Regions from separate parts of the Homo sapiens genome. Here region 1 is linked to region 2. The links come from fine-mapping of genetic effects on gene expression. A gene starts in region 2. The other region holds a variant in brackets. All regions are shown on one strand. Distances are from middle to middle.

What was found. PIP is the estimated chance that this variant, and not a neighbour inherited with it, causes the effect. A credible set is the group of variants that fine-mapping cannot tell apart.
Region 1: its variant is the best candidate, but not a certain one, in a credible set for the expression of SCNN1G in lung (TOPMed, PIP 0.87).

Annotation. Positions count from the first base shown.
Region 1 is chr16:23,358,369-23,366,368 of GRCh38, forward strand. The region is part of intron 4 of SCNN1B (sodium channel epithelial 1 subunit beta); the gene reads left to right. Among named protein-coding and RNA genes, the nearest start is that of SCNN1B, 60 kb to the left of the region's middle. RefSeq lists a silencer at 7,300-7,594 and an enhancer at 7,458-7,517. The variant C/T (reference allele first, on the strand shown) is at 4,319.
Region 2 is chr16:23,170,947-23,187,034 of GRCh38, forward strand. SCNN1G (sodium channel epithelial 1 subunit gamma) reads left to right here and starts at 11,799. Exons shown (of 13, transcript NM_001039.4): 1 at 11,799-11,867; 2 at 15,282-15,642. The coding sequence starts at 15,326. RefSeq lists enhancers at 1,282-1,783, 14,806-15,307, 15,308-15,807 and a silencer at 11,521-11,770.

The DNA of each region.
Region 1 (8,000 bases), 180 kb after region 2:
GGGGTCTGGGGTTAGACCACCTAGACTCAAATCCTGGCTCCATCTTACAAGCTGTGTGACCTTGAACAAGTTTCTTAGCCTTGCTGTGCCTCAGTTTCCCTCCTCTGTAAAATAGGGGAGAGAACAATACCTACCCTACATGGTTACTTTGAATATTAAGTGAATTAATATGCATGAGTAACTGACCCTACTACTGGGCTTAATAAATAATAGTTATAACTATTACTTTTATAATAGTTTTATAACCCACATTTTAGGCTGGGCTCAGTGGCTCATGCCTATAATCCCAGCACTTTGGGAGGCCGAAGCTGGCAGATCGCTTGAGACCAGGGGTTCGAGACCAGCCTGGACAACAAGGCAAAACCCCATCTCTACTAAATATACAAAAATTAGCCAGGTGTGGTGGCGCATGCCTGTAATCCCGGCTACTCAGGTGACCGAGGCACGAGAATCACTTGAACCCGGAAGGCAGAGGTTGCAGTGAGCCGAGGTTGTGCCACTGCACTCCCGCCTGGGCGACAGGGGGAGACTCTCTTAAAAAACAGCAACAAAAACAAAAACCCCAATTTGACAAGGAATGCAAATTCAATAATTATGCCAACATTTACTGGGCCTTTCTCGTCCCTGTAGGTGTCAGGCACTATTCTAAGCACTTTGTGTGTTAAAATTGCTTTCACTCTGGCAACAAAGTCATGAGAAAGGAGCTGTTATTTTCCCCTTATTTTATTTTTTTAAGAGACAGGGTATCACTCTGTTGCCCAGGCTGGTCTCAAACTCCTGGCCTCGAGTGATCCTCCCACCTCAGCCTCCCAAAGTGCTGGAATTACAGGCATGAGCCACCGCGCCCAGCCTTCCCCATCATTTTATAGTTGCTGTAACCTGCCCAGAGAGGTTAAGTAACATCTCTGAAGTCACACAGTTGGTGAGTGGCAGAGCTAGCAGTCTGGGCCAGGCCCACCCCGCATCACTCTATTGCCTCATCAGAAAGGGTGATCGTCATCTTCCCTCCCTACCCACCTCTCCCAAGCCTATTTCCCCAGCCCTCGGCAGGTCCCAGTGAAAGGTACCATCCAGGCACCTTAGCATAGAGATCTCAGCCAACTGCTCTCTGAGCTCTTCCTCACTCCCACAGTTGACTGGTCATCTGCCTTCCTGAGTCAGCCTTGGACACAGCTGTGGGAATGTGCCTCTCTGCTCTCCCGGTGCTGGGCCACAGACACTGTGGCCCCTGCTTCCTCCCTCTCTCTCTGACTCCATCCTGTCCCCCTCCTAACATGACAAACACTCTAGAAGCAGCAGCTGCAGAATTAGGAAAATGTGAGCCGCATGTGGACCCCAACACCAAACTGCCTGGACTTGAATGTCAGCTCAGTATGTGACTGGGCATGCTACTTAGCCTTTCTGTGCCTCAGTTTCCTCACCTGGAAAGTGGGGACAGTGAAATAACCACATAGCATTATTGGGGGATTAAATGAGAACATATGCAAAGTACCTGGTGCAATGCCTGGCACATAGTAAACATTATAGGAGCATTTTTTTAAAAAGGCTTTTGGGCCGGGCATGGTGGCTCACGCCTATAATCCCAGCACTTTGGGAAGCCGAGGCAGGCAGATCACCTGAGGTCAGGAGTTTGAGACCAGCCTGGCAAACATAGTGAAACCCCATCTCTACTAAAAATACAAAAATTAGCTGGGTGCAGTGGCTCACGCCTATAATCCCAGCTACTCGGGAGGCTGAGGTAGGAGGCTGAACCCAGGAGGCAGAGGTTGCAGTGAGCTGAGATCATGCCACTGCACTCCAGCCTGGGAGAGAGAGCGAGACTCCATCTCAAAAAAATAAATAAATAAATAAATAAATAAACAAATAAATAAATAAATAAAAAGGCTTTTGGCCAGGTGCAGTGGCTCACTTAATCCCAGCACTTTGGGAGGCCAAGGAGGGAGAATCGCTTGAGGCCAGGAGTTTAAGACCAACCTGAGCAACATAGTGAGACCCCCCATCTCTACAAAAAACAATTTTAAAATAACAAAATTAGCCCGGCGTGGTGGTACACACCTGTAGACTCAGCTACTCTGGAGGCTGAGGGGGAAGGATCACTTGAGCCTCGGAGTTTGAGGCTGCAGTGAACCAAGATCACACCACTGCATTCCAGCATTCCAGCCTGGGTGACAGAGTGAGAGTAAAATATAGAGAGAGAGACTTTGTTGTTGGTGGTGGTGGTGGTTTTTTTTTTTTTTTTTTTTTTGAGACGGAGTTTTGTTCTTGCCCCCAGGCTGGAATACAATGGCATAATCTCCACTCACTGCAACCTCTGCCTCCCGGGTTCAAGTGATTATCGTGTCTCAGCCCCCCGAGTAGCTGGGATGACAGGCATGCACCACCACACCTGGCTAATTTTTGGTTTTTGGTTTTTGGTTTTTGGTTTTGTTTTGTTTTGTTTTTTTGAGACAGAGTCTCACTCTGTCGCCCAGGCTGGAGTACAGTGGCACTATCTCGGCTCACCACAAGCTCCGCCTCCCGGGTTCATACCATTCTCCTGCCTCAGCCTCCCGAGTAGCTGGGACTACAGGCAGCCGCCACCACAACCGGCTAATTTTTTGTATTTTTAGTAGAGACAGGGTTTCACTGTGTTAGCCAGGATGGTCTTGATCTCCTGACCTCATGATCCACCCGCCTCAGCCTTCCAAAGTGCTGGGATTACAGGCATGAGCCACTGTGCCCAGCGTAAATTTTGTATTTTTAGTAGAGACAGGGTTTCACCATGTTTGCCAGGCTGGTCTCAAACTTCTGACCTCAGGTTATCTGCTGCCATAGCCTCCCAAAGTGCTGGGATTACAGGCATGAGCCACTGCGCCTGGCCTAGAGAGACTTTTTATCGAGGAATAGTTTTAGATTTACAGAAAAACCACAGCCTCCAACTCCTGGACTCAAGTGATCCTCCCTCCTCAGCCTCCAAAAGTACTAGGATTACAGATGTGAGCCACTGTGCTGGCCTTTGCTCTGTACTTTGGAAAGGAGTCACTAAATTCAGACTACGCTCAGGGGAAGGGGAAGGGAGTGGCCAGTGGGAAAGGAGCATTGAGCTCCACCCCTCCTAGAGAGAAGAATATATATTATTTGGAATTCTTCTGTAAAGGAAGATTTGTCTCATCTCCTCCATTTATTTATTTATTCCATCATTTATTGACACAGTATGGACTCCTGTAGATTTAGGTTGTAATCCAATTCCTTGTTATCTATTCTCTTGCTTAAATTCTTCTAGCTTTGGCCACTCTGTCAGTTAGCACCTGTGTGCCTTTGATATGTCCTCACCTGGGTGGGTTTTTTAACTTTTGCCTACTTTCTGGCACTACAGGATGCCCCCGCCCTAGAATCAGCCATTTCTCTAAAGAGCTCTGTTTGGTTTTTTGGTTGTTTTGTTTGTTTGTTTGTTTTTGTTTTTGTTTTTTTTGAGATGGGATCTCACTCTGTTGTCCATACTGGAGTGCAGTGACACAATCGCGTGCCCGATTAATTTTTTTATTTTGTAGAGATGGGGTCTCCCTATGTTGCCCAAGCTGGTCTCAAACTCCTGGCTCAAGCAATCTTCCCACTTCAGCCCCCTAAAGTGCTGGGATTACAGGAGAGAGCCAACAAGACTTGCCCAAGCTCTGGTTTTTTAAATTGAAGAATGGTATTTAGAAACCAAGATCTGGGCCAAGCATGGTGGCTTATGTATGTAATCCCAGCACTTTGGGAGGCCGAGGTGGAAGGATTGCCTAAGCCCAGGAGTTTGACACCGGTCTGGCCAACATGGCAAAACCCCATCTCTACTAAAAATACAAAAATTAGCCGGGTGTGTTGGCATGCACCTGTAATCCCAGCTACTAGGGAGGCTGAGGCAGGAGAGTCACTTGAACCTGGGAGGCAGAGGTTGTATAGAGCCAAGATCATGCCACTGCACTCCAGCCTGAGCAATCTCAAAAAAAAAAAAAATAAAGTTAAATAAAATTTAAAAATAAAGAAACCAAGATCTGGGCATATATAAGCATTATTATTACTATGGTTGTTGTTGTTTCAGGGATTATCCAACTAGTTTCTGCCCTGGAAAGTCTTTCCTGACCTCTGACCACACAACAGTGGTTATACTGCTTCCTGCTAGGATGCTCTATTTCCCAGTCTTTTCTGGAGGCTCACTGGTCTCTGTCTGCATGCCTGGCTCCCAGCCCAGCAGAGATTTCTGTAGGGAAACACCTGGCTCTGGAATCAGAGGCAGCCAGTCCTGGGAGCAGCCTCTCTGGGTGAAGAGTATTATCAACAAGCAAATAGTTGGCACGCA[C/T]GTGGAGACCAAGAGCATGGCGCGGGCAGGAGGGGACCTGGCCACACCCCATGCAGCCTCCTGCTCCTGGGCTGCATCTGACCAAGACAGTTCCTTGGGAACACTGTGTCCCCATGCCCTGGGGCGAGGTCTCTCCTTCAAGAGCAGGGCCTGGATTGAGCTGGTTTGCTCTGCTCTGTTCTTTTCCTGTGGCCACAGCCCTGATCCCACAGTTTATAGACTCCATGGTGCCCGCCCAGAGCTATTTCTTCCCTCTGGGGCTTTGCCTGTGTTGTGTCCCTGCCTGGTGAGCCCTTTCTCCTCCCTACCCTGTAGACTTAGCCATCGCTTACTTGTTCATAAAGTCTCAGCTCAGGCCTCCCCTCCTCCAGGAAACCTTCCCTGACTCGCTCCCCACTCTCCACTGGGACTTGGGTGTCACTTCTCCATACTTATCTCTGTCGATGCTCTTATCGCCTATTGTAATTTATTCATCAAATATTTACTGAGTGTCTGTGTGCTCTGTACCAGACCCTGGGCATGGAGCTGTGAACAGTAGCAGCCAAGATTTTTTGAGTATTACAGTATGCTAGGCATCCACCCCTTGCCGCAGTCATGTAGGTAGTATTATCTGGTGTTACAAATGGGGAAAGTGAGGCACGAAGACGTGATGTAACCATCCCAAAGCTCACCAGCTGCTAAGGGACACAGCCAGAATTGAAATCAAGCAGGCTGGCTCTGTGGCCTGTGCTCTTGACCTCTGAGCTCTTCTCCTTCCAGACAGACAAGGTCATGCTCCCTCCCCGGGCTTATGTTCTAAGCAGGAGACAGCTAAGTGAGCAATTAAATCAAGAAGATAATTTCAGGCCAGGCACAGTGGTGGATGCCTATAATCCCAGCATTTAGGGAGGCTGAGGCCAGAAGATCACTTGAGGCCAGGAGTTCAAGACCAGCCTGGGCAACATAGCAAGACCCCATCTCCACAAAAAATTTTACAAATTAGCTGGGTGTGGTGGCACATGCCTGTAGTCCCAGCTACTCAGGAGGCTGAGGCAGGAGAATATCTTAAGGCCAGGAGTTTGAGGCTGCAGTAAGCTATGATCACGCCATTGCACTCCAGCCTGGGCAACAGAGTGACACCCTGTCTCTACCAAAAAAAAAAAGGAAGCTGATTTCAGATTCTGATGTATCTGATAAAGAAGATAATCAACTGGTTGAAGGGCCAGGTGCAGTGACTCACCCTGTAATCCTAGCACTTTGGGAGGCCAAGGCAGGTGGATCACCTGAGGTCAGGAGTTCAAGACCAGCCTGACTAACATGGTGAAACCCTGTCTCTACTAATAATACAAAAATTAGCCAGGCGTGGTGGCGCATACCTGTAATCCCAGCTACTCAGGAGGCTGAGGCAGGAGAATCACTTGAACGGGGAGGCAGAGGCTGTAGTGAGCTGAGATCATGCCACTACACTCCAGCCTGGGCAACAAGAGTGAAACTCCATCTCAAAATAAATAAATAAATAAATATAAATAAACTGGTGGAAAAGATCTAGAGTAACTAGGTAGAAAATTCTATTACTATTAGTAATAAAGTACTATTAACTAATAGTTCTAGTCCATCACTTTGCATAGGGGTTCAGGGAGGCCTCAGAGCAGATAAAAGCTGAAGGATGGGGAGAAGCCAGTATCTGAAGAGCTGGTTAGAGAATATTCCAGGCACAAAGGACAACAGAGGCAAAAGCCTTGAGCTTGGAAACATCTAGAGTGTCGCTGGAGTGTAGGGAATGAGACATAGAAGGCCAGCATAGGGACTTTGCACTTTATTCTGTGAGTGACAAGAAGCCTTTGGAGGGTTCTCAGAAAGGGAGTACCGTGCTCTGACTCACAAATTTAAACAATCACCCTGACTGCTGTGCAGAAGGAAGACTTTAAGGATGAACAGAGGCAGAGGCTCCAGCAAGAATCCAGACATGAGATGCTGGTGACTTGGGCCAGGGTGGGAGCGTCTGAGGTGGAGACAGGTGGACAGACTAAAGTCACATCTTGGAGCCTGGCGTGGTGGCTCACACATGTAATCTCAGCACTTTGGGAGGCTGAGGTGGGAGATCACCTGAGGTCAGGAGTTCAAGACCAGCCTGGCCAACATAGTGAAACACCATCTCTACTAAAAATACAAAAATTAGGCCAGGCATGGTGGCTCACGCCTGTAATCCTAGCACTTTGGGAGGCTGAGGTGGGTGGATTGCCTGAGGTCAGGAGTTCGAGACCAGCCTGGCCAACATGGTGAAACCCCATATCTACTGAAAATACAAAAATTAGCTGGTTGTGGTGGCAGGCACCTATAATCCCAGCTACTCGGGAGGCTGAGGCAGGAGAATCGCTTGAACACAGAGGGCAGAGGTTGCAGTGAGCTGAGATGGCACCACTTCACTCCAGCCTGGGGTGAAAGAGCAAAACTCCATCTCAAAAACAAAAAAAAAAATAGTTGGGCGTGATGGTGCCTGCCTGTAATCCCAGCTACTCAGGAGGCTGAGGCAGGAGAATTGCTTGAATCCAGGAGGCAGAGGTTACAGTGAACCAATATCACGCCATTGCACTCCAGCCTGGGCAACAGAGCAAGACTTTGTCAAGAAAGAGAGAAAGAGAGAAAAAGAGAGAAAGAGAGAAAAAGGGAGGAAGGGAGGAAAAGAAAAGAGAGAAAGAGAGAAAGGGAAGAAGGGAGGAAGGAAGGAAAAGGAAAGAAAAGAGAGAAAGAAAGAGAAAGAAAGGAAGGAAGAAAGAAAGAAAGAGAAGGAGAAAGAGAAAGAAAAGAGAGAAAGAAAAAGAAGAAAAGAAAGAAAAAGAAAGAAAGAAAAGAAAAAGAGAGAAAGAGAGAAGGAAAGAGAAAGAAGGAAAGAGAAAGAAAGAAAGAAAGAAAGAAAGAAAGAGAAAGAAAGAAAGAAAGAAAGAAAGAAAGAAAAAAGAAAGAAGTCACATCTTGGAAGGAGAGGGGGGTTGATAGGATTCCACTCTCTGTCCTCTGCCACACTGGAAGCTGCAAAAGGCAGCCCTGTCTTGTTTTGCTCAGTGTCCCTAGCCTAGCACCCACCTCAACAAACATTTATTGGGTGGAAAAATGTGGTTTCTTCCTGCTTCCCCTTGCACCGTTGAGGAAACCCAAGCTCAGAGGTTGAGTAAGCAGCTCAAATCTGTTGACAGTGGCAGAGCTTGGGTCGGCCCCCATATCCCATTTCACAGCCTGTCCTGGACCCAAGTCATTCTGCAAGTCAACTAGCTGAGACAAAAGATACAGGAAATGGCTTTCTTATCTGAAAACACGGGAAAATAACACCTGCCCTTGTGGGGTTATTTTGAGAATTAAATGAGATCACGAATACAGAAAGATTCAGCACAGGCCTGGCCCATAAAAGTCACTCAGTGAATGTTTGCTGTGGAGCATAAGGCTTCAAAGACAATACTGCATGGCAGGTGACGTTTTATGTGTGTGCATTATTTGATGTACTTACTCTCATTCCTTCCTGTTTTTATTTTTAATTTTTTACAAATTATTATTGTTTTTTTGATACAGAGTCTCACTCTGTTGCCCAGGCAGGAGTACAGTGGTGCAATCACAGCTCACTACAGCCTCAACCTCCCCAGGCTCAGGTGATCAATCCACATCAGCCTCCCAAGTAGCTGGGACTACAGACACTCACCACTACTCCTGG
Region 2 (16,088 bases):
TTAAAAATTACATAAAAATAAAGAAACCTATATCATAGATGTAAATTATTAGAAATATATATATATACTTAAAAGCAAAAAAAATTTAAACAGAAAATTGGCACTATGGAGAAAATAAAGCTGGACAGGGAAACTAAAGAAAATGTACATGGGGTTGAAATTTTAAATAGCGTGGTTATGAATAAATAGCAATGGTCCCTTGCTGGGAGAGTGACTCTTGAGCAAAGATCTGAGGGAGGTGAAATAGGGAGCCAGGCAAAAATCAGGAGGGAGAGCATTCCAGTCAGAGCAGAGCCAACTCCAAAGGCTTTCAGAAAGGAACGTGCCTGGATGAGTTTGCAAAACAGCAAGGAGGCCAGAGTGGCTAGAGAGAAATAAACACAGGGTGAATAGTAGGATTTGAGGTTTGAGTGGTACCGAGATAGGAACAGCACTGGGTGATCACAGGAGGATGGAAAAGCCCAAACAACAGCTCAAACAAGAACTAGGCAAAGAAACCACAGGATAACCGAAAACACAAAAGAAGGGAGAGAAAATGGCCAAAACCCTGGTCAGGATGACGTGTCCATGACTCTTCCAGGCAAACACGTAGGCAGTAATTGGGGTCCCTGAAATTTCCTCCTTTTGCAGAATACCTACTGATTATTCCAACCCCTAATTGAAGAGACACCCATAGAATTAGAAACCCAAACTCCATCGTGTGAGATTCGTTCTCCCAAGCATGCCCGCCCTTCTCTCTTAAGTGTGTGTTCCCACTTTGCAATAAAAGCTTCTTGCTTCATTCTGACTCATCCCTGAATTTTTTCTCCCGACAGTGTAAAGAATCTGGCCAGTGGCTAGGACTGAGGCCTCAGCGGCATCGGGAGACCTTCCTGAGCCTTCTGGCAACATTACTAAATCATGTAAGGCTCCAGGATAGACCATATGACAGGCCACAAAACAAGCCCAACCAAGTACATTTAAAAGATTGAAATCATGCAGTGCCAGAGGTCTCTAATGGGATGCCCATCTCCCATGAAATGCCATTCACAATGTTGAAATGAATACAGTAAGGAGGATGAAGGAGTGAAAGGGACATTGTCCAGCCAGCCTATTCAGTGTGTATAGATGAGTGATATCATGGTCAGATTACCTTTAGAACCGGACATGCACAATTTTTTTCTTTTTTTTTTTTTTTGAGATAGAGTCTAGCTCTGTCACCCAGGCTGGAGTGCAGTGACACCATCTCGGCTCACAGCAACCTCTGCCTCCTGGGTTCAAGCGATTCTCCTGCCTCAGGCTCCCAAGTAGCTGGGACTACAGGCACTCACCACCATGCCAGGTTAATTTTTGTAGTTTTAGTAGAGGTAGGGTTTCACCATATTGGTCAAGCTGGTCTCGCACTCCTGACCTCAGGTGATCTGCCTGTCTCAGCCTCCCAAAGTTCTGGGATTACTGGCATGAGCCACCACGCCTGGCCTATTCTTGCTGTTGTGGATAGCTATGTTCTATAAAGTTGCCACAAACACTGACTTAGTGAATACTGAACCATTCTTTCTTCTTCTTTTTTTTTTTTTTTTTTTTGGCAGGTTTCAAAAACTCGCTTTATTCCAATGTAAAATGAAGACATGATGGTTTAAAAACAAGAAAAGTTATTGATCAACTGTGAGGATGCTTTTGCTCACGTCCACCGCCTTTGAAACAACATGCCTGGACAGACCACACCCATAAGCAGCTCTCCGCAAAGACCCAGGCAGATGCCCCAGCCCCCTCCAGCTCACAAGGCAGCCAGCTACTCCTTCATCAGAGCTCCAACAGCAGGCACAGAGAAGCAGCACGGGCAGCGGGGAGGGGAAGCAGTGGGGCCTGTGGGGGCCCCCGCCACCCACAGAGCTAGTCTCTGTAGAAGGTGCTGTGTGGCAAGGACCAGGAAGGGAACTGCGCTACAGAGAGCTGACATCACTTCTGCATCTTTAACTTTCCCCAGGATCCAAGATTCAGCCCTGCTTCCCCCAGCCCCTCCCCAGCCCCACTGTGCATTAGGCAGCTCAGGTTAAAATGGGGAGAAGGTCAACCATTGCTTCTAGACAAAATACAGAGTTAGGTTTCCGAGAGCCTCTGGTCACAACATTTTCATCAACTGATCAATATGTAACTTTGCTTTATGTGTGTTTCTGTTTAAAGTCACCTTATTTAATATGTAGTTGATGCAATAACATTGACATCATGGCCAACATTACTATAATTCATGCCTTAATAAAGCCTGTCTAACATATGCCTTTCTCAGTAAGGCACATACAGTCTTGCTGTGCTTAGGAATACTAGATAGCACTTCGCACTACACTTGGGGGCCGTTGTACTCTAAGCACAATTTAGTGGAATTGTAAATCAGTGACAGAAAGAAATTTGGGAAATTCACAAATATGTGACAATTAAGACACTCCCAAATAAATATTGGATCAAAAAAGAAACCACCGGCTGGGCATGGTGGCTCATGCCTGTAATCCCAGCACTTTGGGAGGCTGAGGAGGGCAGATCATGAGGTCAGGAGTTCAAGACCAGCCTGGCCAACATAGTGAAATCCCATCTCTACTAAAAATACAAAAAATCAGTAGAGCGTGTTGGCAGAAGCCTGTAATCCCAGCTACTTGGGAGGCTGAGGTAGAATTGCTTGAACCTGGGAGATGGAAGTTGCAGTGAACAGAGATTGCATCATTGCACTCCAGCCTGGGTGACAGTGCAAGACTCTGTCTCAAAAAAAAAAAAATTAAAAAATTAAAAAATAAACCAACAGAGAAATTAGAAAATATTTTGAGGTGAGTAAAAATGACACAACATATAAAAATTAGAGGATGTAGCTTAAGCAGTTATTAGGGAGAAATTTACAGCTGTGAACACCTACATTAAAAAAGAAGAAAGATCTCAAATCAATAACCTAACTCTACACTCTCAGACTCAAGAAAAGGGAGAGTGAATGAAATCATGTAGGGCCTTATGGGCCATTGTAAGGACATCATCTTCCATAACCTCTGAGTATCTTTTGTGTTCTGAGACTTGGAGAAAAATCCAAAAGATGAAGAACAAACCCACGGGCTTAAAGAAAACTAAAAAAAAACCCAGTCAATTCTCATTATTCATGGATTTCATATTTCACTAGAATTTATTTGTAACCCTAAAATCAATACTTGCAATGCCTTTAGGGACATGTGCCAAGCAGCAAAAATTTTAGTCACCCACTGTGCTTGTTCCCAGCTGAGGTCAAATAAGGCAACACTCTACCCTCTTGTTTCAGCTCTTATACTGTAAACTCATGTCCTTTTTTGCAGCCTATATAGGCTGCCACAATTTTCACATTTTTGTTTTGTTGGTGAGTTTGCTCCCTAGCGCTGAAGTGCTATCTAATATTCCTAAGCACAGGAAGGCTGTATGTGCCTTACTGAAAAAATATATGTGTTAGGTAAGCTTTATTCAGGCATGAGTTATATAGTGCTGTTGGCCATTATTTCAATGTTATTGAATCAACTATATATTAAACAAGGTGACTTTAAACAAGAACACACATAAAACAAAGTTACGTATCGATCAGTTAATGACAACGTTGTGACCAGAGGCTCTCGGGAACCGAACTCTATATTTCTTCTAGAAGCAATGGTTCAGTATTCACTAATTCAGTGTTTGTGGCAGCTTTATAGAACATAGCTAGCCCAAATAGCAAGAATTGATTGTACATGTCCAGTTCTAAAGGTAATCTGACCATGATATCTCTCATCCACACAGACTGAATAGACTGGCTGGAGAATGCCCCTTTCACTCCTTCATCTATTCATTCCAAAATTGTGAATTGCATGTCATGGGCGATGAGGCTTCCACTGGAGACCTCCTGCATAAAAGGAGAAACTATGGCTGCTGTCCGCAGTGCTGATATCTAAAGCCAGCTTCTCTCAAGAGAAGCAGCATCAAAAAAATTGAAATCCACACAACTGAATCTGAGGACCCTGGTTCCTACTCCCCAAAGGTCAAAGACAGTAGGTTGCCCCAAAAGACTAAGTCATTAAGAATGCATGAAGAGAGAGCATTAATCCCATCTTGGTGGGGCAAGATAACATCCACAAGAACTGAGGGACATCATTCTAGATTTGTAGGAATCCTGGAAAGAGTCAAACTTGGGAGCAAGATTACTTATCTCCTCTGGATCCCACATTTAGCCAACCCTGTGCCACAGATGCCTAAGCCTTAGTAGCAGCTTAACCAAGTTTTCTAAGCCACTTTATATATCTTTATATCTCCTCTGACTCTATGGAAGTTTTGAGATCTCCTGCTATCTCTTGTGACTAGCCTCCTGAGACCCTGAACCCCAGCAGTGATCCTCTAAGGACCAGAAACTCTACAGAGGTATTGCAAAAACGTTCCAACGCTGGGCGTGGTGGCTCACGCAGCCCTTTGGGAGCAGCACTTTGGGAGGCCGAGGTGGGCGGATCACGAGGTCAGGAGTTCGAGACCAGCCCGACAAACATAGTGAAACCCCGTCTCTACTAAAATATATACAAAAAAATTAGCCGGGCGTGGTGGCACATGACTGTAATCCCACCTACTCAGGAGGTTGAGGCAGGAGAATCACTTGAACCTGGGAGGTGAGCTGAGATCGCACCACTGCACTCCACCCTGGGTGACAGAGTGAGATTCTGTCTCAAAACAAAAACAAAAACAAATGTTCCAAAGGAGTATAAATAGAATTTCAGGGAAAGCAATGCATTGGAGAAGCCAAGAGAAGAGAGTGTTTCACTGAGACAATTATCAGTTGCAAGTGCCAAAGAAGGCAACAGTAGAGAAATTATGCAATATGAGATGTTTTTGCAACCCAGAATTTATTCTGATTTTGCTTGGAAAGAACCACTTCTTCCCCATTCTCAGCCCTTGTGTTTTGAGTGAAGCTGAATCTACCCAGAGACAGAGCATATAATCCAAGCCTAAGCCAATCAATGCATCCCATTCTTCTAATCATGGTGTTCAACTGGAAGTTGAAACAGCCAGGCATGGTGACTTGCACCTTTAATCCCAGCTACTCAGAAGGCTTAAGCCCAGAAATTCAAGGCTGCAGTGAACTATGATTACACAACTGCCCTCCAGCCTGGGCAACAGAATAAGACCTCATCTCTAATAAGTAAAAAAAGAAGTTGAAACATGCCTCAAACAAGGCAATAAAGCTCAATCAAGATTGTCCTACAATATGTGCTTAAGCTATCAGTCCTTCTGGACTCAGCATTATGTATATGTAGAAGCTAGAGCTAGTGCAGCCATCTTGCAACAACACTGGACAGAGAATGGTGTGAACACTGATGAATTAGAACCAAGACTCAAAGGCAGAAAAACCAGGACCTGTTGACATCTTTTGAATTCAAGTGTAAGCTGAGCCTGAAGCCAGACTCCCTTATACATGAGCTAATTTGTTTCATTCTTTAGCCTAAGCTAGTTCACGGTTGTTTGATTCTGATATCTGCAATATATAGAGTTTTACCTGAATTAGAAATAAGTGCTGGATGCAGAATGTTTTGAGTGATGCATGATAAAATGTGGAATTTACAAGGGCCAAATCGATGGGGTATAGGGCAATAAAAGCCCCTCCGACACAGCTGGGAAGTTGTGCTTTCAATAAGCCCCCATCACCATGGGTAATCTGTGCATTCTCTTGACCCATAAAAAAGTCTAATTAGTAAAAGAATGTTTTTTCACTCTGAAAGGCCAAGGCAGGCGGATCACTTGAGCTCAGGAGTTCGAGACCAGTCTGGGCAACATGGCAAAATCCCATCTCTACAAAAAATACAAAAGTTAGCCAGGCACAGTGGCATGTGCCTGTAGTCCCAGCTACTTGGGAGGCTGAGGCAGGAGAATAGCTTGAACCCAGTGGGTGGAGGCTGCAGTGAGTCGACACTGTGCCACTGCGCTCCAGCCTGGGTGGCAGCAGTGAAACCCTGTCTCAAAAAAAAAAAAAGTCTCTTACACTAGAAAAATGGTACTAACTTTTGCCAGAAACATATGTGTACCCTTTGGGGAAAAAGGGTCCTAGAAAATTAATGTAACCAAGCTTATATTTCTCTATTTCAACAACTGATGCTATTGGCTTAAGCTAAGACTATACACAGAAATAGTATCCAGGTCATTGAATTAGAGTCCAATTAATAAATAAGAATGGTCTTCTACCATGCCACCACCCTCATCAGCCCAGCAAGAAAGACTTTCCTTGTCTTCAACAAGGAAGACCTTGTTGATTGCTTCTTAGAACCCTCCCATCCGACTACATAATATAAATGTGATCCTGGAAATGTGAGTCCCTTTGACCCCACACCTGACTCATATTAGCCTTAGGTCCTATGAAGATAATTTGGTAAACTTTGGGTCTTATTGAGATAGCTGGTTGGGCGCGGTGACTCACACCTGTAGTCCCAGCACTTTGGGAGGCTGAAGTAGGTGGATCACTTGAAGTCAGGAGTTCGAGACCAGCCTAGCCAACACAATGAAACCCCGTCTCTACTAAAAATACAAAAGAAATAGCCTGACATGTTGGAGCATGCCTATAATCCCAGCTACTCAGGAGGCTGAAGCACGATAATTACTTGAACCCAAGAGGCAGAGATTGCAGTGAACTGAGATCACGCCACTGCACTCCAGCCTGGGTGACAGAGACAACATCTAAAAAAAAAAAAAGAGAGAGAGAGCTAGGATCAAGGGGAGTCTATTTCCCTGTCAGAGTTCTAATTACCTGTTATCCCTTTAAATAGCTCAGGGCTCTCCCTGTTGTCATTTGGCATATAAAAATGTTGCCCAGATTTGTAGATATTCATCTGGGACTAGATATGAAATACACTCACTTTAAGAAACAGAAGAAGACATCACCACATCCAAGTGGGAAGATAGGATTTTTATTCTCTATATTAGTTGGGACTTTTTTGGTTTTGAGTGAGATAAACAACTCAAAATGTCCTAAACACAATAGCAAGTTTATTGGCTCATATGACTGAGAATTCCAGAAGGTAGACCCAGCTGTAGGCAGTGCTGGGTCCAGAGACTTGCTGGAACCCTCTCCATCACTGGGCTCTGCTTTTCTTTGTGTTGGTTTCACTCTAAGGCCCTATGTGATACTTTCCACAGCCCTTGGATCACACAGTCCTTTCTGCTAGAAGTCCCAGTAAAAAGAGACATCCTCCTTTGCAATATTCTAGACAAAGTCTTGGGTGGGTGTGACTCTCAGACTCTCATTGGATTGAATTTCTGTCTGTGCCCACTCCTGAGCAAAAGACTGTAACCTAAAGGCCAGGCATGGTGGCTCATGCCTGTAATTCCAGCAATTTAGGAGGCCAAAGTGGGTGGATCACCTGAAGTTAGGAGTTTGAGACCAGCCTGGCCAACATGGTGAAACCCTGTCTCTACTAAAAAAAAAAAAAAGAAAAAAAAGAAATTATCCGGGTGTGGTGGTGTGCACATGTAGTCCCAGCTACTTGGGAGGCTGAGGCAGGAGAATCACTTGAACCCAGGAGGCGGAGATTGCAGTGAGCCGAGATAGCACCACTGCATTGCAGCCTGGACGACAAAGCGAGATTCCATCTCAAAAAAAAAAAAAAAGACTATAACCTGAGTGACAAGATAAGCTGATTTGCTAGAGCCAGAGATGGGGGTCAACCTAAGTTGAACCACATGAATGAGGATGGGGGGTGTGGATAGGATTGAATGGTTCTCCAAAGGAAATTCAGGGATGTCTCTAGAATAAAAAGAATGGATATTGGCAGAAAAACAAGCAAATGGCTTCTACACCATTGCTCTCGACAAGCAAGTCTAAAATCTTAGTATTTAGGGGGCAATGTAAGTCTCATCTATATTGCTTTTTCCTAAGTGGACCAGAAGTGTTTTTTTGAAAACAAAGGGAAATGTTGGTTCACTTGTTTTAAGGTTTCTTCCTCACTTACAGCCACATGATCTGAGAATTTCCCATTTACCAGTAGTGGTGAATCTCTTCAGTCATATTTGTTTTACCCATTCCTACCCTCACAGTGTTAGCTGATTGGACCAGGAATGAATACACCTGAGCCAAAGAAACTAGCTCATTGGCAGGCCAGTGGCCAATCAAATTTATCTTCAGGACTCATGAGACTAAGACAGGCTTTGAAAATTCAAGAAAGCCCACAAAATCCTCTGCCAGGCGCACTGACTTACACCTGTAATCCCAGCACTTTGAGAGGCCAATGCGGGTGGACTGCTTGAGCCCAGGAGTTCGAAACCAGCCTGGGCAATATAGAAAGACCTCCATCTCTACAAAACCCACAAAATGTATCTGGGTGTGGCAGTGCATGCCTATGTTCCCAGCTACTCTGGAGGCTGAGGGGGAAGTATCACTTGGGCCCAGGAGGTGGAGGTTGCAGTGAGCCGAGATCGCACCACTGCACTCCAGCCTGGGTGACAAAGCCAGACCCTGTCTCAAGTAAAAATAAAAATAAAAAAAGACCACAAAATCCTCCTCCTGAGAGATCCAGACCTTTCCTGGTTCCCATTCTCCTGAGACCCTCTGTGTTTCTTTGGATTCTGTAAAGGAGCCCTGCCTGCATCCATTTAATAATTTATTGATTCTGCTTGAGCTAATTTGAGTCTGTTTCTGTTGCCTGAAACCAAATGACTTTGCTAAGGCTAGGTTCGGTCATAGTCATATGCAAGGATGGCACGGAGGCCAGTGAAGGTGAAGCAGAATATGCGAGTGTGAGTAGGAAGAGACGAGGGCAGAGGGACAACAGGGTCAGATGATGGAGGGCCTTGCAGATGACCATAAGGATTTTGGCTTTCATTATAAATGAAGCAAGAAGCCACTGAATGGGTTTAAATAGAGAAATGGCATGATCTAACCTTAATTCAATAAGAATCTCTTTGACTGGCTTATTGACAAGAGGCTGTGGAGGGCAGAATTAGCAAGATTAGTGAGGAGCCTATGGCAATGATTCGGGTGAGAGACAATGATCAATTAGAGCATGGTGGTGGCCCCAGAGGTGGGGAGAAGTAGATTCTAGGTATATTTTATAAATCTGAACACTGATGCTTCAAGAAGGAGAGGACGTTGCCTATGGTCTTATGATGACAGGAGTGGTTTAGAGGCAATACCACTCTGTACTGAAGAATCAGATGGTGTTGGTCATAGGAGTGTACACATTTACCAAAACTCCTTGACTTGTACATTTTGGGCCAGGTGCAGTGGCTCATGCCTGCAATCATAACACTTTGAGAGGCCAAGGCAGGCAAATTTCTTGAGGCCAGGAGTTCAAGACCAGCCTGGGCAACATAGTGAAATTCCATCTCCACAAAAATAAAAAATTAGCCAGGCATGGTGGCACAGACCTCTAGTCCTAGCTACTATTTTGTAATCTGAGGCAGGAGGATTGCTTGAGCCCAGGAGTTGGAGGCTGCAGTGAGCTATGATCACACCACTGCATTCCACCCTGGGTGACAGAGCAAAACCTTGCCTCAAAAACAAACAAACAAAAAAATTGTGCGTTTCACTGTATATAAATTTTAACTTGAATCTAGCCTAATTCCATGCCTATAATGCCAGCACTTTGGGAGGCTGAGATGGGTAGATCCCTTGAACTCGGGAGTTCAAGACCAGCCTTGCAAACATGGTGAAACCCCTTCTCTACCAAAAAAAAAAAAAAAAAAAAATTAGTTGGGTATCGGTGGCATGCACCTGGGGTCCCAGCTACTTGGGAGGCTGAGGTGGGAGGATCCTTGGAGCCACAGGAAGTTGAGACTGCAGTAAGCCATGATCATGCCACTACATTCCAGCCTGGGTGACAGAGCAAGACCCTGTCTCAAAATAAATAAATAAATAAATAATTTAAAAGACAAAAAGAAGAAAAAGCTGGCTTTATTTTGCAGTGAGAATATAACTGTGTATTGTCATTCAAAACAAACATAGAATTTGAACAGTGTGTGTTTCAAAATCCCATTATATATGTATGTGTATATATATAAAACTAATATGTGTGTGTGGACACACACACATACACACACACCAAATAATAACCAAACTGTTAGCCATGCTTATTTGGGGAGGGGGGGGCACAGTTTATTGTTTTAATTCTTTGCAATGAGCATATATTGTTAGAAGAAGCAGCTGAGATTTTTTAGAGGATTTTCTTTAAATTTCTCTCCAATAATGCTGGACCTGTTTCCATCCACCTGGGCAAACCGCCCTTGGACCAGCAACCAAGGCATCTCCTAGGAATTTGGAAATTCGGACTCTTAAGACCCACTCCACCCCTATCGAGTCAGAATCTGCATTTTAACAACATCCATAGGTGATTGTAACCACATTCAAATCTGAGAAGCTCTAGGTAAGAACAGATCCTTTCCTCTCTCTGGGCTTCAGTTTCTCCCCGGCACAAAGGGGCTGTGTCTCTATGGTCCCTCCCAATTGCAGTTTTCTAATCTCGTTTCTTGTAGTTATCTGAGTCCCTATAAAAAGGCAGCTGAAGCTAGGAAAGGTGGCTTACCTCTGTAATTCCAGCTATTTGAGACGCTGAAGTGGGAGGCTCGCTTGAGCCCAGTAGTTGGCAGCTACAGTGAGCTATGATTGCAGCACTGCACTCCAGCCAAGGTGACAGAGGCAGACCCTGTTAAAAAAAGAAAGAGAGAAATAGAGGAAAGAAAGAAAGAAAAAGAAAGAAAGAAAGAAAGAAAGGAAGAAAGAAAAAGGAGGGAGGGAGGGAGGAAGGAAGGAAGGGAGAGAGAGAAAGAAGAAAGAGGGAGGAAGGAAGGAAGGAAGGCAAGCAAGCAAGAAAGAGAAAGGAAGGAAGGAAGGAAGGAAGGAAGGAAGGAAGGAAGGAAGGAAGGAAGGAAGGTGGGCGGGCGGGAAGGCAGGCAGGCAGGCAAGGAAGGAAGGAGGAAAGAAAGGAAAGAAAGAGAGAAAGAGAAAGAAGGACAGGCCAGGCGCGGTGGCTCACACCTGTAATCCCAGCACTTTGGGAGGCCAAGACGCGTGGATCACCTGAGGTCAGTAGTTTGAGACCAGCCTGGCCAACATGGTGAAACCGCGTCTCTACTAAAAACACAAAAATTAATCCGGGCATGGTGGCGCGCGCCTGTAACCCCAGCTACTTGGGAGGCTGAGGCAGGAGAATTGCTTGAACCCGGGAGGCGGAGGTTGTAGTGAGCTGAGATAGCGTCATTGCACTCCAGACTGGGCGACAGAGCGAGACTCCGTCAAAAAAAAAAAAAAAGAAGGAAAGAGGAAAAGAAAGAAGAAGGAAGGAGGAAATAACGAAAGAAAGAGAAAGAAGCAGCTGAAAAGGTCAAAGGATGAGTGGCCTGGCTGAACAGCCCCTGCTGCCTACAGCCGGACGCTGGTGGGCACTGAAGCTGCAGGTCTGGAGGGAGTCCGAGGAGCGAGGCTGCGTGGGATTACTGCTGGTGCTAGGGCAGGCACCTGCCATCTGGACGGGAGTGGAAGGAAGTCGCGGGGCAGTAATAGGGGGCAGCAGGCGCTTTGAGGCGCCTTGGGGTAAGTGCCGCAGAGACCCAGCGGGAATGCAGGATGGCAGGGCGGCCTCGGGGCGGCAGCAGGCACTGCGCGGTGGCCCAGGAAGACGCAGCGCGGCCGGGCTGGGGCGCAGGGCGGCTTCGGGGCGCCAGGGGGCGTTGTGAAGTCGTGGCCCGCTCCGGGCGGTCTCAGGTGCCTGGCGGCCTGGGGAAAGCACCTGGGCAGGTGGGGGCGGGGCCTGGGGAGGCGGGTCCCTAGGGGGCGGGGCCTGGCCGGCCCACAAGAGCCCGCGGTGGCGCTGCCAGGGGATGCTAGCCCGAGAGCGAGCAGAGGAGCAGCGCACCCGCACGAGCCTTGGACCCTTTGGAACCGAAAGGTGAGTTCAGCCGGGTTGGGTCGGACCAGCTCGGGGGTTCTGGGCACTGGAGCGGATGCCGGGCGCCAGGGCGTCGGACGCCGTCAGCGCGGTGGGTGGCCGAGCCAGCATCAGCCGGTGGCGGCTTCCCGGTGCCCGGGATGCTGGGACACCTTGCCCGGGCGGTAGCGGCCAGCTCTCCCGGGTCTACCCACGCCGTGGCCCGGAGCACGAAGCCAGTCGAGAGCCACTCAGAGTCCGGGGGTCTGGGGGTCCCGGGCCACACCTGGCCTCTTTTCTCCGCCCAGCGCCTGTTCAGCCCCCTTCCCTGCCGGGGTGAGTCGCGTGGACCTGTCCGCTACTGTTCCTTCTACCCTCTGGAATGCTTTCTCCGGGGTGACTTGGTGCAGAAAGAAGCAAACACTTGAAGTGGGCTGGTTGGATTCGCTCCAGCGCCTTCAGCCGGCGCTCCCCCGGGGCAGACGTGGCTTCCGCCACAGGACAGCGCCCGCTCGCTCCGCGCAGGGAGGGCAGGGCTGCGGGGTCGCTCGGCAGGAGCTCGGGTCAGGGCCCTGAGGTTGAGTTCAAGTGATTTCTGCACAGGACTCGCCCTTCGGGACGGGCACTGATCGGGAACTCTCCGGTCCAGCGAACCCAACGCTAGACTTGGGGCAAATCTCTCATCCCTCTCCAAGCTTTGGGGTCCTGCACTGTGGGATGGGGGACAGGCAAAGTCGGTGGTAGGTGAGGAGGGGGTGCACGGAGCCGCTGCGATGAGCCAGGGCCCTGGAATTCTAAAGAATCCTTCAAATCCTTTCTACCTGTGTGGTCTTGGGCAAATTACCTAACCTCTGTGCCTCAGTTTCCTTCTCTGTGAAATGGGCCAAGTAATAGCACCTCATATAACTGTAGTGAGGATTAAATCAGGTAGTGTGTGAAAAGGACTGAGTGGGATGCCTGGGAGTACAGAAAGGGATCAATAAGTGATAGCTGCCATTATTGCTGCTTTCCCTGCTGCTGTTATTATTATTAATGATTGAAGAGCAGCCTAGTTAGTCGTTAAAGGGACTCCTAGGTGCAAATCCCAGCTCAGCCACTTTCTAGTGTGACCTTGGGCAAGCTACTTAACCTGTCAGCGTCTGTTTCATTTGTACAATGGAGGTGGTTGTGATACCTACCTCAGACGATTATCGTGAAAATTAAATGAGGTGACAGCTGCAAAGTACTTAGAAGAGTAAGTGCTGGGTATCAGCTAGTAATTCTTCCACCAAGGGTATCACATTGGCTCAGGCTGCATAATCTAATGGTAGCTACAGTCTTGTTTTGCTTTGAAGTTGAAATATTATTTATATGAATATTTTATCTGTTTTGCAAAGAGCAAGATCAGTTCCCTTCCTTCACTTGGGGGCTCCTCTGACATTGTCGACTGATCCATTGGGGTCAAGGTCGGTTCTGGGGAAGGGGCTGATGGGGCAGAGGTACCCCTGAGAGCTGGGGATAGGAGCTTCCAGAATCACAGCTTCTGTTGAACATTCACAGAGGAGGGCTGCAGTTTTATTTGACAAGCAATTGAACCTGGACCTAGATTTTAAAAACAAACTCTCGCTAATTTTTTTCTTTCTTTCCTTCTTCTTTATTTCATTTTTTATTTTTTTGGATTGTAGTGAGGGAGGAGGTAAGGATAGGCAATATTTTAAGTGATAAAAAAATAAATTATATTCCTCTTGCCCAGAGGCTACTAGCATCATTTTGATGGTGTTCTTCATCCCAGCAAAATCATATCAATCTATGGAGGGTTTAGAGCAGTTTGTCTGCTCTGGACATCTCACCTCCATGCCCAGCACTCCATTTCCTTTCCATCTGAGGCCTTAAACCCACTAGCATCATAAGCTTGGAAGCCTCCTAGCTTTGCCCCAGCTTCCAATTTTAGCCCATATTTCATGGGTTCAGGGTGGGAAAAAAAGACATAACTCTGCAGGTTCCGAATACTGCCTAAAAATCTTGATGGGGCACATCGAAGTCACAGACATGGGTCCTCTCTGGTCCTGGGGACCACCCTGTATGCCCTAGGATATGTCCTAATTTGCCTTTGTCACTGTAGAAGGCATAGGACGACACAGTTTTCATATATCCCCCACCCCCAATACTAGTGCTCACAAGTCTTGGGAAGTGGTCATGTGCACTGTTCAGAGTTTGGAAATTAAATAGCTGTGTTCCTTCTCTTTCCTCCTACCTTTAGTTCTTGGTATTGTTAATTAACTCCCTGCACCCAGCGTACTACCAGGCCCCTCAAAGGCGTATGCCATAGCGGTGAAGGCTGCAGGGTTCCATCCAGCTCCTCCACTAACCAGCTGCATCATCTTACACAAGATATTCAACCTCTCTGAGCCCATTTTTCTCCTCTGTAACATGGATATAATAATAGCATGCCTACTTCATGGAATTATTGAAACACAAAAGGAAATATATGTAGGCTATGTGTATATTTATAGAGAGAGACAAATTTACTTATGAGACTAATGAGACTATATATTATAAACATGAAATGAGTTTTTATGTAGTATATTAGTTCATTTCTAAAATTATTTCTCATTGTAAAGTTTGTATAGTTGAGATGCATCGTGCACATTGATGAATGTGATAATTTGCCTTCCAATACTGGTACTCTCCCCCAAAGCTGTTATTAAATCAAGGGCATTCTCTAAATTAATGGTATCTTAGAATCAAGGAAATATGGCACAATGCCTGGCAAACACTAAGTGGCCAATAGTTGCAGGTTATTGTTACATCAGGTGATCTAGAAACATTAAGAGCTTGACTGTAAAGAGAAGAAACAAAAGAGAAATCGTTTCACTTATAATAAAGCCTCAGAGAAAAGGCTGGGGAAAATGCAGCCAGGAACATGATCTAAGGTGGCTGCCGGGAAATTTTCTTGGCAGATTTCATCTGTCAGTTACAATCTGCCGAGCACTGCTCTGTGCCAGACACTGTGCTAGGAACCAGGGGGCATAATGAGATAGGAATGCTGCCCTTGAGGAAGGCGGGCTACTGGAGGTGATAAGGCACGGGTACCCCTGCCTGATAAGAGAGCTGATGGGGCTGCTTCCAGAGTTCCTGCCCAGGAACCCGGGGAAAGGTCCTGCAGCCTGTCCAGCCAGCGCTTCGCAGGTTGCACCTCACCCAGCCCCCGCACGGCTAGGCCTGGGGGCCGTAAGAGAAGTAGGCAGCTTCTCTGGCAGCTGTGGTGGCCAAAAACAAACGTCCCGTGGAAAAGGGGCCAAGGATTCAGAATGCAAAGTGCCTAAGCCACAGAGGAACAGAGGAAGGAGGTCTCTAAGGGCGCATGGACTGGTGTTTCCCAGACTGTGGTCTCCAGGGACACACTAGCCGGCTAGTGCCTGCCAGCTCACCTGCTTCTCTTCTTTGCCCCTCCAGCACGCCCGTCCTCAGAGTCCCGTCCTCAAAGTCCCATCCTCGCCATGGCACCCGGAGAGAAGATCAAAGCCAAAATCAAGAAGAATCTGCCCGTGACGGGCCCTCAGGCGCCGACCATTAAAGAGCTGATGCGGTGGTACTGCCTCAACACCAACACCCATGGCTGTCGCCGCATCGTGGTGTCCCGCGGCCGTCTGCGCCGCCTCCTCTGGATCGGGTTCACACTGACTGCCGTGGCCCTCATCCTCTGGCAGTGCGCCCTCCTCGTCTTCTCCTTCTATACTGTCTCAGTTTCCATCAAAGTCCACTTCCGGAAGCTGGATTTTCCTGCAGTCACCATCTGCAACATCAACCCCTACAAGTAAGAGGCATGAGCAGGGAAACGCGAGTAGGGAGCCAGGCCCCCCACAGAGGCCAAAGCCCCTCCCGAAAGTGACACACTGGCAGCCTGGAGGTCGATTCCAGCCTACAAATGTGCTTTCTAGAAATTTGAATTTGTTGCTAACGCTGGTAAACAGCCCCCTCCCCAGTTCTAAATCTGTATGTACCAAGTTTTCAGACCATCAGTGACTTGTTTTTTTTCTTTTCTTTTTCCTTTTTTGAGATGGAGTTTCGCTCTTGTTGCCCAGGCTGGGATGCAGTGGTGCGATCTCGGCTCACTGCAACCTCCACCTCCCAGGTTCTAACAATCCTCCCGAGTAGCTGGGACTACAGGGGTGTACCACAGCGCCAGGCTAATTTTTTTGTGTTTTTAGTAGAGACAGGATTTCACCATGCTTGGCCAGGCTGGTCTTGAACTCCTGACCT